3 linked regions of the Homo sapiens genome follow. The protein of the gene in region 1 purifies or fractionates together with the protein of each later gene. This does not show direct contact. Each region holds a gene or a part of one and is shown on either strand. Other genes may lie near its edges.

Evidence for each region.
Region 2: the proteins of AFAP1L1 (region 1) and KDM4A purify together in Homo sapiens (affinity purification with mass spectrometry; one large-scale study listed by BioGRID and IntAct). This does not show direct contact.
Region 3: the proteins of AFAP1L1 (region 1) and DECR1 purify together in Homo sapiens (affinity purification with mass spectrometry; one large-scale study listed by BioGRID and IntAct). This does not show direct contact.

What each region holds. Positions count from the first base shown.
Region 1 is NC_000005.10:149,313,359-149,316,858, reverse strand, and holds part of AFAP1L1 (actin filament-associated protein 1-like 1), read right to left. Parts: intron 1,039-3,500; coding exon 945-1,038; intron 709-944; coding exon 556-708; intron 1-555. UniProt on the Homo sapiens protein: May be involved in podosome and invadosome formation.
Region 2 is NC_000001.11:43,691,649-43,695,148, forward strand, and holds part of KDM4A (lysine-specific demethylase 4A), read left to right. Parts: intron 1-607; coding exon 608-663; intron 664-2,345; coding exon 2,346-2,454; intron 2,455-3,060; coding exon 3,061-3,246; intron 3,247-3,500. UniProt on the Homo sapiens protein: Histone demethylase that specifically demethylates 'Lys-9' and 'Lys-36' residues of histone H3, thereby playing a central role in histone code. Does not demethylate histone H3 'Lys-4', H3 'Lys-27' nor H4 'Lys-20'.
Region 3 is NC_000008.11:90,000,210-90,004,276, reverse strand, and holds the start of DECR1 (2,4-dienoyl-CoA reductase [(3E)-enoyl-CoA-producing], mitochondrial isoform 1 precursor), read right to left. Parts: upstream 2,801-4,067; 5' UTR 2,785-2,800; coding exon 2,716-2,784; exon of another isoform or gene 1-2,715. UniProt on the Homo sapiens protein: Auxiliary enzyme of beta-oxidation. It participates in the metabolism of unsaturated fatty enoyl-CoA esters having double bonds in both even- and odd-numbered positions in mitochondria.

The DNA.
Region 1 (3,500 bases):
TTTTCAGGGTTAGAATATTACTGCATATCCAAAATATACGATTTTTAAAAACTGGATTCCAGTACATGGAACGCTACATTTACATGAGCAAAATAATGTTTTCACCTTCAAATCACCTTTAATTCACATTGAATGCATTTTTAATAAAAAGTACCTAAATATTTTTCTCCAATAAATTTCCCTATAATATGGGTTGTTACTTATAAACCTGGCACGTTCTATGCTGGAAAATAAGATACCCCTGTCTTGTTATCGTGGAGGAAACTGAGAAACTGAGGCCCAGGGATGGGCAGTGATTTGGGCTACGGTCACAGGGAGCATAGAAATACAGTGGTCAGCTGGCTTTTCCTTTCGTTGAGTGTCAGGGCCTCTGGGAAGGAAAGTGATGGGAAGGCCTAGAGTGTTAATGGAGTGGGGCTTAGCCTCCCAGTAGGCTTGGATTCCCTCCCCTGCCCTGGGGGTGAGGTGGACGAGGCATGAGGTCTCCTGGCCTCAGCCCCCAAAGCCCGCGCACACAGGACCTGAGCACCCTTCCTCCCCGTGCCCTGGACCCACCACAGCAGGGAACCTCCTCCTCGGTGGAGGACGTCTGCAGGTCATCGGCCAGTGTCTTCTTCTTGGAGAAGCCAATGATACGGGTGATCTTGCGGCCCGCAGCCCTGCTCATTGAGCCCTTCAGTTCTGCCAGGCTGCTCTTCTTCCCTTTGCCTGTTGGGGAAATGGGTCAGGGGAGTGGAGGGAGCCCTGAGTCCCACCCATCCTTAGTCTTCCTTGTGGCCTTTTCAGCCTGCATACAGGATGGGCCTGCAGCTCCAGGGATGGCAGGCCAGGTCACCTTACCCAGGTCTACAGAATGGTCAGAACCTGCTCTGCCGCTGTGTGCCCATGGGCAAGGCCCGGCCCAGTTCCAGCATTCCCCAGCCTGAGCCCCCAGAGGCTCCTACCGTGATCACAGGTCTCCCGGCGGCCAAGGGTAGAACAGTTGTCACCCACACCCACGCTGTCAGAATCTGAGGTCTGCTTCTCTTGGGACAGCCTCTGAGGAGGGACACAGGCAGTCCCTCATCAGAGGGCACATTCAGAAGTACCCAAATTTCCCTTTATTGGTTCAATCTCCCTCCAACTCCCCCAGCACATGATAATTAGCTAACAAATGTTTGTCAGCAACTATCCTGTGCCTCATACCATACCAGGTATTGAAAAGACAACCATGACTTAGATATGGTTGTGTCTTTGGGCAATTCACAGTCCATTTGGGGAGGGAGGCAATTAATTATAACACTTTGAAATGAATGTCTTAGGAATTTGGACTGTATTTGGCAGGTGACAGGGAGCTGGGAAAGTATTTAAGTGGAACACTCATGTAATCCAAATTGGTTTAGGAAGTTACTTCCAGTGGCATTGTGGGGACAGACAAAAGCAGACAAGACTGGAAGCAGAAGAGCCACTTAAAAGAATGTCATCCTGGTCATGATGAGACTCGACAAGAGCATGAACCAAGATGACAGTGAGGATGGAGAAAAAGAGATGAGCTGGCAGACATTTTCAAAACAGTCATGGCGGGACCTGGTGACCAGCAGGAGTCCATTATGATCCTAACTCGGAGGAGAGGATGGGAAGGGGACACACACCCACACACCCACACACAACATGTCAACAATTTCATTGCCAGCCCAAATTAGTTTTACTCATGACACCAACTCTAGACCATTCATCGATTCATTCATACAAGGTCCATTAAGTGTCTATTAGGTACCACGGGATGTAGAGTGGAAGCAATGATGACTCTCTTACCACTTATTAGCTGTGGGAATGTGGGAAAGTCCTTCTGTCTCCCCAAGGCTGGGTTTTTTCACTTGAATTCCACCCACTTCAGAGGGCTGCTGTGACGGAGCCAGCTCAAGTGAAGGCCCATGGACTGTATCATTTCTAACACCTGTGTGATGTGCTGCCATCTTTCTTCAAGAAGCTGAACTGTGCCAGCCACACTTGGGCCAGGATTAAATGACATCCACCCACTTAAGAAGGTGGAATTACAGAGCTCTGAGGCCCCAAAGCCTTTCCTGCCAAGATCCTCTCAAACCAGGCTCAGCTTATGCTTCACCATAAGCATAGCACCGGGGGACGGAGAGGACAGGAGATCATGTGCACCTCTCAGTTTCCAAAGGGCTGGAAACATGACAGCTGTCAGAAAGGGGACAGAACTGTCAAGAATAAAGAATCACCTCTTCAAATGGTGAAACAGAAGTTATGGCTCTATGTGTTCTGCAATGGTGTACAGATGGTAAGTTTTTCATCAGATAGAGCAAATACAAAGAGGTAATATGAGCACTTTGGAAAGAACTCGATGGTGACACTGCAATCACATGATTCTATGGAGAACAGACCCACCAATATCACATCCTCACCCTCACTCTCCACCCAAAATACCACCCCCAACATTCTAGTTACCCTCCCTGTGGATGCTCAGCCACAGGAAAGCTCAACTCTGCAAGCTTGCTTCTTCTTCCCCTCTACACATCTTTCAAACTGCACCTCAGCATGTGCTGGCAAGTGCGTGCACACACACACACTCACACACACTGACACTGTCAACGCTGCTTTCCCTCCGGCCTCACCAATGGCAAAGGCTAAGTGAGGATAGGGTTGAGCTTCTCCTCCTGCATCCACCTGGGCACATGAGTACCCATCTTCCACTCCTGGTGACTCTGCCTCATCCCATACCTTTGCTTCTGTTCCCTCCCCTTGGCCCACCTCTGCCTCAGTGAAATCTTGCCTATGCCTTAAGGCTCAACATAGGTGCCCGTCTTCCCTCATCCTTCTTGCCCCTCCAGCCAGCGTGGGCCCCTGTTCCACTCACTGTAGCTTTCTGGGATACTCTAATAGGCTGGTGGGCTCTCCTTTCTCTCTGAGCTTAGCCATACTGGCCGTTTTCAGTTCCATGCTTCTTCCTGCTCCTGCACCTTTTCCCTCTGCTTACAATGCCTTTTCCTTCCTCTTCCCTGCTAATTTTTCATCTTCATCTGAAATGTCACTTCCTCAGAGAAGCCTTCCTGGGGTGCTGAGGCAGAGGCAGGGGCCCAGGGTACCTGGTACTTTTCCCTTCTAGCACTTACACAGCTTGGCATTTATAAGTCCGTGTGACTATTTGATTCATGTCTGCTTCTTACTGAGCTGGAAATGCTGTGAGGGCAGGGCTTGCACCTGTTTGTGTTTGGACTGCATTTCAGTGGCTAGCACAGTTCCTGGGGTGCCCCGGATATGTGTCAAGCAGGTGCTCAGGATCCTGGCCTTGAGAGGAGGGGCAGCATGGTCATCAAGAACTAGACTGTCTGGGTTCAAATCCTGGCTACGGTTCTTATTTACTATGTGACCTTGGGCAAATCTGTGTCTCAGCTTTCTCCTCTGAAAATGTACCTACCCAAAGAGTTGTTATGAAAATCACCTCAGTTAATACACATAAAGCATTTAGTACACTGCAGGGCATGCAGTCACAGTCT
Region 2 (3,500 bases), on another chromosome or scaffold:
CTCAGTATTCCCAGCAGTCTGCATAGGGTCTGGTACGCGGTGATGTCAGAGAGCGAGTATTGTGAGAGTAAATCCTATGACCGTGAGAATGGTTGCTGCCCACTTACGGAGTCTGGATGCTGTGTTTGCTCCATTGTGGAAAGACCAACTAGTGGTCTTCCTGTGGAGGAACAATAACTCCCTTAAAAGAATTTAGCCATTTTGAATTGGAGCCTCAGAAAGGGGCTCAGATGATTCATTGTGCTGTTTTCTCTTCACTGTACCCCCTGGAACCTGGCTGTACCTAGCCCATATAAGAAGCAGTCAGAGCCCTGTCATGCCTCTAGTTTGAGCAAAGTATCTTTTGTGACTTTGCTAAGAGTTGTTATTAGCAGCAACAATGAAGAGGATTATGTGAAGTCACGTGACTACTTGGCACACTTTAGCCCTGAGTGGCCTCTCCTTCTGACAGGGCGTCCTGGTGCAGGGGCTGCCTGGGTGAAGCCCCACATGCTATTATGCTTCTTTCTTATGTGGAGGAGTTGCCCAAAGCAGGTCCAGGGGAGAGCAGATTGAATGTTAATGACTTGGTATTAACCACTTTTTCCTCCCTCTCCTTTCTTGGCAGGACTGCTGTTTATGCTCATTACGAGGAGGGGCCCTGCAGAGAGCAAATGATGACAGGTAAGTTTCCTGAGCAGTGCCTTGGAATGCACAGGCTCAGTTCCGAAGCACACAGTGTCTTTGTGAGGGTACTAGCTGTTCTTCTGAATGACTGATGAGGATTTGGGAAGCACATCGTGTGGAGCAGGAATAGCATCTCCAAGACTCATTTTAAAAATGGAATGCTAAGGGAGCCAAGCAGTCCCAGACTTTCCAACTCCAGCTGCTCCTCTGCAGCAGAGATGTCAGTGACATCCTCCTTTGGAGAAGCTAAGAATGGACTCATGAGAATATGAAGACGAAGATGATGCGCAGGGACTGTGTGGGCTGGAGTGAGGACATTCACCTTGTCACAGCTGGGGCTGGTATGCAGAGGCGGCCACAGGCTAGCAAGCACTTCTCCACATGGCAAACTCCCTGGCTCAGACCTGCTGTTTGGAATGAGGCGAGTGTGCTCAAGGAGGACACTGAGGAGAGCTCAGACAGGCCCACCCACTATGGAACCGAATCTGCTGAATTTTCTGGGCTTCTCAGCTGTTGGGCAGCTCGTTTTCATGGAGTGAATCTTTGTGCTTAGGCTTGTGTTTGGTTGCTCTGAGGTGGAAACGTAAGATGAATGAGGTTTCTGACCTGGAAGAGCTAGCTGTCTAGGGCATGGTGCGTGCAGGTCAGTGCTGAGTATCCTGCTTCCAAGTAGAATCCCGTGGCAACTTGCAGCATATGTTCAGTCCAGCCGCCTGCCCTCAAGAGTCCCAGTTATGCTGTCCCTGAGAGATAGCTACTCTGCCTGCTGCTTCTGCTCCTTCAAAGGCACTTGCTGCCATTATTTGAGGTCACTGGGTTCCTCACAGTCACAGGATAGTGCTGGGAACATTCTTTCTTATTTGGAGTGGAAATGGCTGTGCTTGAATCTCTCACCTTTACCTCTGAATGCCTGTTCTGCCCTCCAGGGCCACACAGAACAAATCTGTTCCCACTCTAAAAAGACAGCCCCACTAGAACTGCAGAGAGCTTCCATGGAGCCCCAGTGTTGTCTGGTGTAGGTTTTCACGTAGCATGGTTTTAAGAGTTGTCACCATTTTCGTTCTTCTCCTCTTGATGCATGCTGGTTTCCCAAAATGTCCAAAACTTACTTTAATTCTTAAGGATGTCCGTTGAATAGACCTCTCAGAGTAAGTGGGGCTTGGGTCAGACCTTAAAGATTAAAGAGTGAGTCAGCTATGGAAAAAGGGAGCAGAAGGGAGAGGTCATTTCAGCCTGGGGGAGAGGTTTGGGCAGAGGCCGAGAGAGAGCTGTGATTACTGGCAGATTAGGGCACAGCCGGGGACGTTTTCAGGAAGCACTTGGGTCCTATGGTAAAGAGGTCTGCATAGAGCTTTCCAGTTTATTCTCACTCCCTGAGACCTGCCACACACCATTAGCCTGCAGCTCTGTTCATTTTTCAACAGAGTGGTGTAAGAAGCATGATCCGGTGCTAACCTAGGGCAGTGGGCAGTGGCCTAGGTGGGCAGTGGGGGTGGCACTGCTTCCACATACTCAGAGGAGAGACGGTTCTGGTTCTCACCTTCCTGGGTCCCAGGCATGTGCTGGTGGAAGTCAGTGGTCACCCAGGTGAGGGAGGAAGCGCTGTCAGCAGGCCCAAAAGAGAAGGCCACAGAGCCTTGGGCCCAGAGGTGACTGAGGGAGCCTTTGCCTTTTGGCAGGTGGGTCCACGTTTCATGTGCTGTGGCAATTCTGGAAGCAAGGTTTGTCAACATTGCAGAAAGAAGTCCGGTGGATGTGAGCAAAATCCCCCTGCCCCGCTTCAAACTGGTAAGGGCTTGTAGACTCTACATAATTTCCCGACTTACAAGTTTCTGGGTAGAAGAGAACAGGGACCTCCTGTACCCCTTGGTTTTGGTTAGAGTTTGTGATTCTCACTCTGTGGTTAGATTCCTTAGTGGAGGCCAGGTGTGGTGGCTCACACCTGTAATCCCAGCCCTTTGTGGGGCCGAGGTGGGTGAACCACTTGAGGTCAGGAGTTCAAGACCAGCCTGGGCAACATGGTGAAACCCCGACTCTACTAAAAATATAAAATTAGCTGGGAGTGGTGGTGCGCACCTATAATCCCAGCTCCTCGGGAATCTGAGGCAGGAGAATCACTTGAACCCGGGAGGCGGAGGTTGCAGTGAGCCGATATTGTGTCACTGCACTCCAGCCTGGGTGACAGAGCAAGACTCCGTCTCAAAAAAAAAAAAAAAAAAATTTCCTTGGCAGATAAAGTTGTAACCAGACCTGGATTAGAGCAGGCTGGTGTGTCCTTGTATTTTGGGAAGGGGCTGGCTCTTGCTTGCTTGGCTTTGCATTTGGGAGGGGAACAACAGAGGAAGCTGCAGTGCCAGTTCCTGCAATCACTGGTTTTCTTCCCCTGTGCTACAGAAATGTATCTTCTGTAAGAAGCGGAGGAAAAGAACTGCTGGCTGCTGTGTGCAGTGTTCTCACGGCCGCTGCCCAACTGCCTTCCATGTGAGCTGCGCCCAGGCTGCCGGTGTGATGATGCAGCCTGACGACTGGCCTTTTGTGGTCTTCATTACCTGCTTTCGGCACAAGATTCCTAATTTGGAGGTGAGAGAGGGTGTCATTCTAGAATCCTCTTGACAGTTTTCATGGTCATTTTCTCTGCATGTTTTCCATTTGTTGTATCAGCAACTATTTCCTCAAGCATTCTGCATTATGAAGAGTGCTAATGAGTTAAGAGATTGAGAGGTGGCCCCTGTCCATCTCCACTCCCTGCCTTGTACTCCATAAGCCAGTGACACCAAACTGCTTGTAGTTGATTCGTTTTGATTATCTCTTTACTTGTCTGCCTCTCCATCAGA
Region 3 (4,067 bases), on another chromosome or scaffold:
CTCCTAGGTTCAAGTGATTCTCCTGCCTCAGCCTCCTGAGTAGCTCCTGCCTCAGCCTCCTGAGTAGCTGGGATTACAGGCACGCGCCACCACGCCCGGCTAATTTTTATATTTTCAGTAGAGACAGGGTTTCACCATGTTGATCAGGTTGGATAGTTATTACTCTTGATAAAAACAAAAGGAAAAGAAACATGGCAGTGTGCATGATAGTAATCAAAGAATGAATCAAAAAAGGAAGAATGGTAAATTTTTTTTTTAAAGTTTCACAAAATGAACAACCTTACTACATGAGATGAATTTAGATATATCCTATTCTATTCCATTTTTTTGTTTTTGAGATGGAGTCTCACTCACTCTATCGCCAGGTTGGACTACAGTGGCGCGACCTCAGCTCACTGCAACCTCTGCCTCCCAGGTTAAAGCGATTCTCCTGCCTCAGCCTCCCAAGTAGCTGGGACTACAGGCGTGTGAAACCACACCCAGTAATTTTTGTATTTTTACTAGAGACAGGGTTTCACCATGTTGGCCAGGATAGTCTTGATCTCTTGATCTAATGATCCACCCGCCTCAGCCTCCCAAAGTGCTGTTTTGCTCCACTAAATTGATTTCAAGGCCTACTCATTGGTTATTATTTGTGGCTTAAAATACATATATGAGACTATAGTACATTGAAGGCAGGAATGTCTTTCAACCACAAATTGCCAAAGAATGCCCAATACTTAATAGGTACTTAATTAATTAGTGTTTCCTCATAAACAACTGAATGACTGAATGTTTTCCTCAATAGAACTGAGAGCAACTTGAGAACAGTTGAGAGCAGGGCTCGTATTTTTTAAATTTTGAGTCCCAGGGCATAGCACAGGGCCAGACATAAAGCCAGTCCTCAATAAATATTTATTAAATTGAAATGAGGCCTATTAGCCAGCAGCACAATTTAACACAGCACTTCACAAACAGGTTTTATAACAAATTAAACATTTGCCTTGGTTCTTGGTAACAAAAATATTCAAATTAGGGGTTTTAATTATAACAACTTGTATTTGCCCACAAAAACATGATGTTCCCTGGAACAACCTCCCACATCACAGATGTAAAGACTTTTCTTCTCCCAGGAATTCAAACTTGAGGCTACATGTGCTAGGAAGGGGACAAACCACACTAACAGGTACCTCTCTTGCCTCCCAACCCTGAACCTCAAAACTTCCATATTTTTCTTCAGCAAAGGAATTTCAAAATTGTCAGATTACAATTAATTTTTAAATGAGTTCATTTTCTCCTTCTCAAACTGTATTGTCTAATGGTGTCAGAAGAGCTTGGATAAGGTCTGTATGACCTTATTGCTACAATCCTAATGATGTGTGTTAAAAAATGAAATCTCTGAAGACATCACAGAGCTGTTGTAGATTTCAAATGAGAAATGTCTCTGAAAAGTATCAGAAAATATGGGCTTCCTTTATAATGATCTATAACCCAGTTTTCACAGGGAGAGAAAAAAAATCAGCAAAACCCTAACCCTGAACAAATCTCACTTTTTAAAAGAAAGATACCTTACTTGAGGGAACCACCATACTAATTCTTTGTATTCCTATTTGGAACTACTGCTGCCCATATTTTTTGAAAAACAACACCATGGCTGTCTATTCTATCAAATCAAAAGAAGTTTTTTCACAGTTGACATATTAATTTTTCTACCTGGCTAAAGAAAATGTGCTTTTTAGTTTACTTATAACAATTTTGTAATTTAGATGTGGGGAGGGCTTGTCTTGGATATTATTGCTTCTTTTTGTTTTTGTTTCTCTTTCTTCTTCCTAGCTGTTTTCACTTCCTAGCTATTTCCACTATGGGTGCAATGGAGATGGTGACAGGAGTGTGGGCCAGAGAGAGGGGGAAGCCAGTGTGAGACGGACCTCTCCCAGCTATACATCTGGGAAGGGGAGTCTATAAACAGCTGGGGTTTTGTTTTTGTTTCATTTTTATGATAATTTGTTTGTATTAGTGTTTAATTCCATAACTAACACATAGATGGACTTTCCTCACAACAAAGGACGTCAAAGGTCAGTGCTCGCTCGGCCTGATCCCCTCTCACTCCTTAAGGGGTGGACGGGCGCCGTATCCTTCCCTACCTCTTTCTACCTATTTACACACAAGTTGGAAACTTGCAGAACTGTGAAAACTTCGAAAATCACGTCTCTTCCCTATTCCCCTACACACATCAGGGCTTCATCTGACAGTGGAATACGACCCGGGCCCCGGTGCTCACTCCCGGCGTTGCCCTTCGCTCCGGGACCTGGTGGTCCTCTCTCTCTGCGCCCCAAAACGCCCTGTCCTAGCTCCCTGAGCCCCAGGGACGCCGGGTCCTCTCTTTGTGCCCCAAGACTTCCTGCCCTTTCTCTTGCGCCCCGAGACGTCCTGTCCTCTCTCTCGCTCCCCGGGTTGCTCTGTGCTCTCTTAGCGCTCCAGAACGCCCTGTCCTCTCTCTTTGAGCCCCGGGACACCCTGTCCTCGCTCCCCGAGGCCCCGGGACGCCCTGTCCTCTCTCTCTCTGCGCCTCGGGATGCCCTGTCCTCGCTCCCCGAACCCCCGGGACGCCCTGTCCTCTCTCTTTGCGCCCCAGGATGCCTTGTCCTCGCTCCCCGAGCCCCCGTGACGCCCTGTCCTCTCTCTTTGCGCGTCGAGACGCCCTGTCCTCGCTCCCCGCGCCCCCGGCCGCCTTACCCTCCGAGGAGCGAGGCCACAGGGCAGCCGGGACCCCAGAGTAAAGAAAACCCTGGCCGGTAGCTTCATGTTGAGTCTCCAGAACTCGGGCCGGAAGGCGGCGCAGGCGGTTGGGCGCAGGGGGCGGGACAAAAAGAACAAAGTTCTCGGGGCTGGAAACGCTGCCTAGGCCGCCGGGGGATGGGACGGGGACTGGGACCCAGGCGGCGTGGACGCCCAGCGGCCCTGACCTTCAGAGTCCGGCCGAGGGCGCCGCCTAGCTGGGCCTAGCTGATGCTCTTTCCTGCTCTCTGGGCCAGGAGTGCTTTGTATGGCAGAGAATGGAGGTTCTTTGCGTCCTTGAGCGGGTGTACGAAACCCCGCGCCCTGCAAGGGTTTGCAGATTGCAGCTGCGCACCCCATACACTGCCTATCAAGGGCGAAACTCTTTTTCAGTCGTATGTGTTTATCCCTTAAGTGCGTGTTTAAGTGCAGAGTGCGCGTGGCGCCAAGTCACATATTATCAGAATAATAATATGTTGGATGTAAAACACGGCCTCACTTTCCCTAAGACCAAGAGGCTGAAAAACACTAAGGGCAGCTTCCGGCGTTTTGACTTTTCGCAGGACACACCGCCCCCTGTCGCCGGATGCAGCGTGACTGCGACCGCCCAGCCTTGGCTTTTTTCTCGAAGTTAAACACACGTTAAAGGCAAACACAGATTCAGTATATCATTCTCCATCTTAGTGTAATATACCTGTTGACACAAGGCATTAGCTCAGATCACATTTCTTTCCTCATTCGTAAAATGAGAATATTCATAGCTAATTCAGAATTTTAGATAAAAGAAGATGGGTGTGAGGCCCCAGGCTGAGGCTGATGGTAGATGATATTGAGTGTTTACTATTTGCCTGGCATGTTCCAAATGCTGATAAAGAAACATTTATATCTTCAGAGGAATGTACACTTACATGTAGACATATAGCTTATAAGGTATATAAACTCTGAAAAACTTTGTAATTTTGAGTTGGTCTGGTGATAATTTCCAGGCCTTCTGCCTGTAACTGGTTACAGAAATAAAAACTTTCTTCATCCCCAGTTCATCGACATCTCATTATTGGCAGCAAGAAATAGCAGCCTGACCCTCAGTTTGGTCCAGGAACAAAACTACCACAGATTGGGTGGCTTAAATGGAAATTTGTTTTCTCACAATTCTGGAGGCCACAAGTCAGCAGAGTTGGTTTCTTGTGGAGCCACTGTGGGACCATCTTCTCCCTGTGTCTTTACATGATCCTCCTGTGTACCTTTCCATATCTAAATTGCCTCTTCTTATGAGGACACCAGTCGTGTTGGATTAAGGCCCACCCTCAATG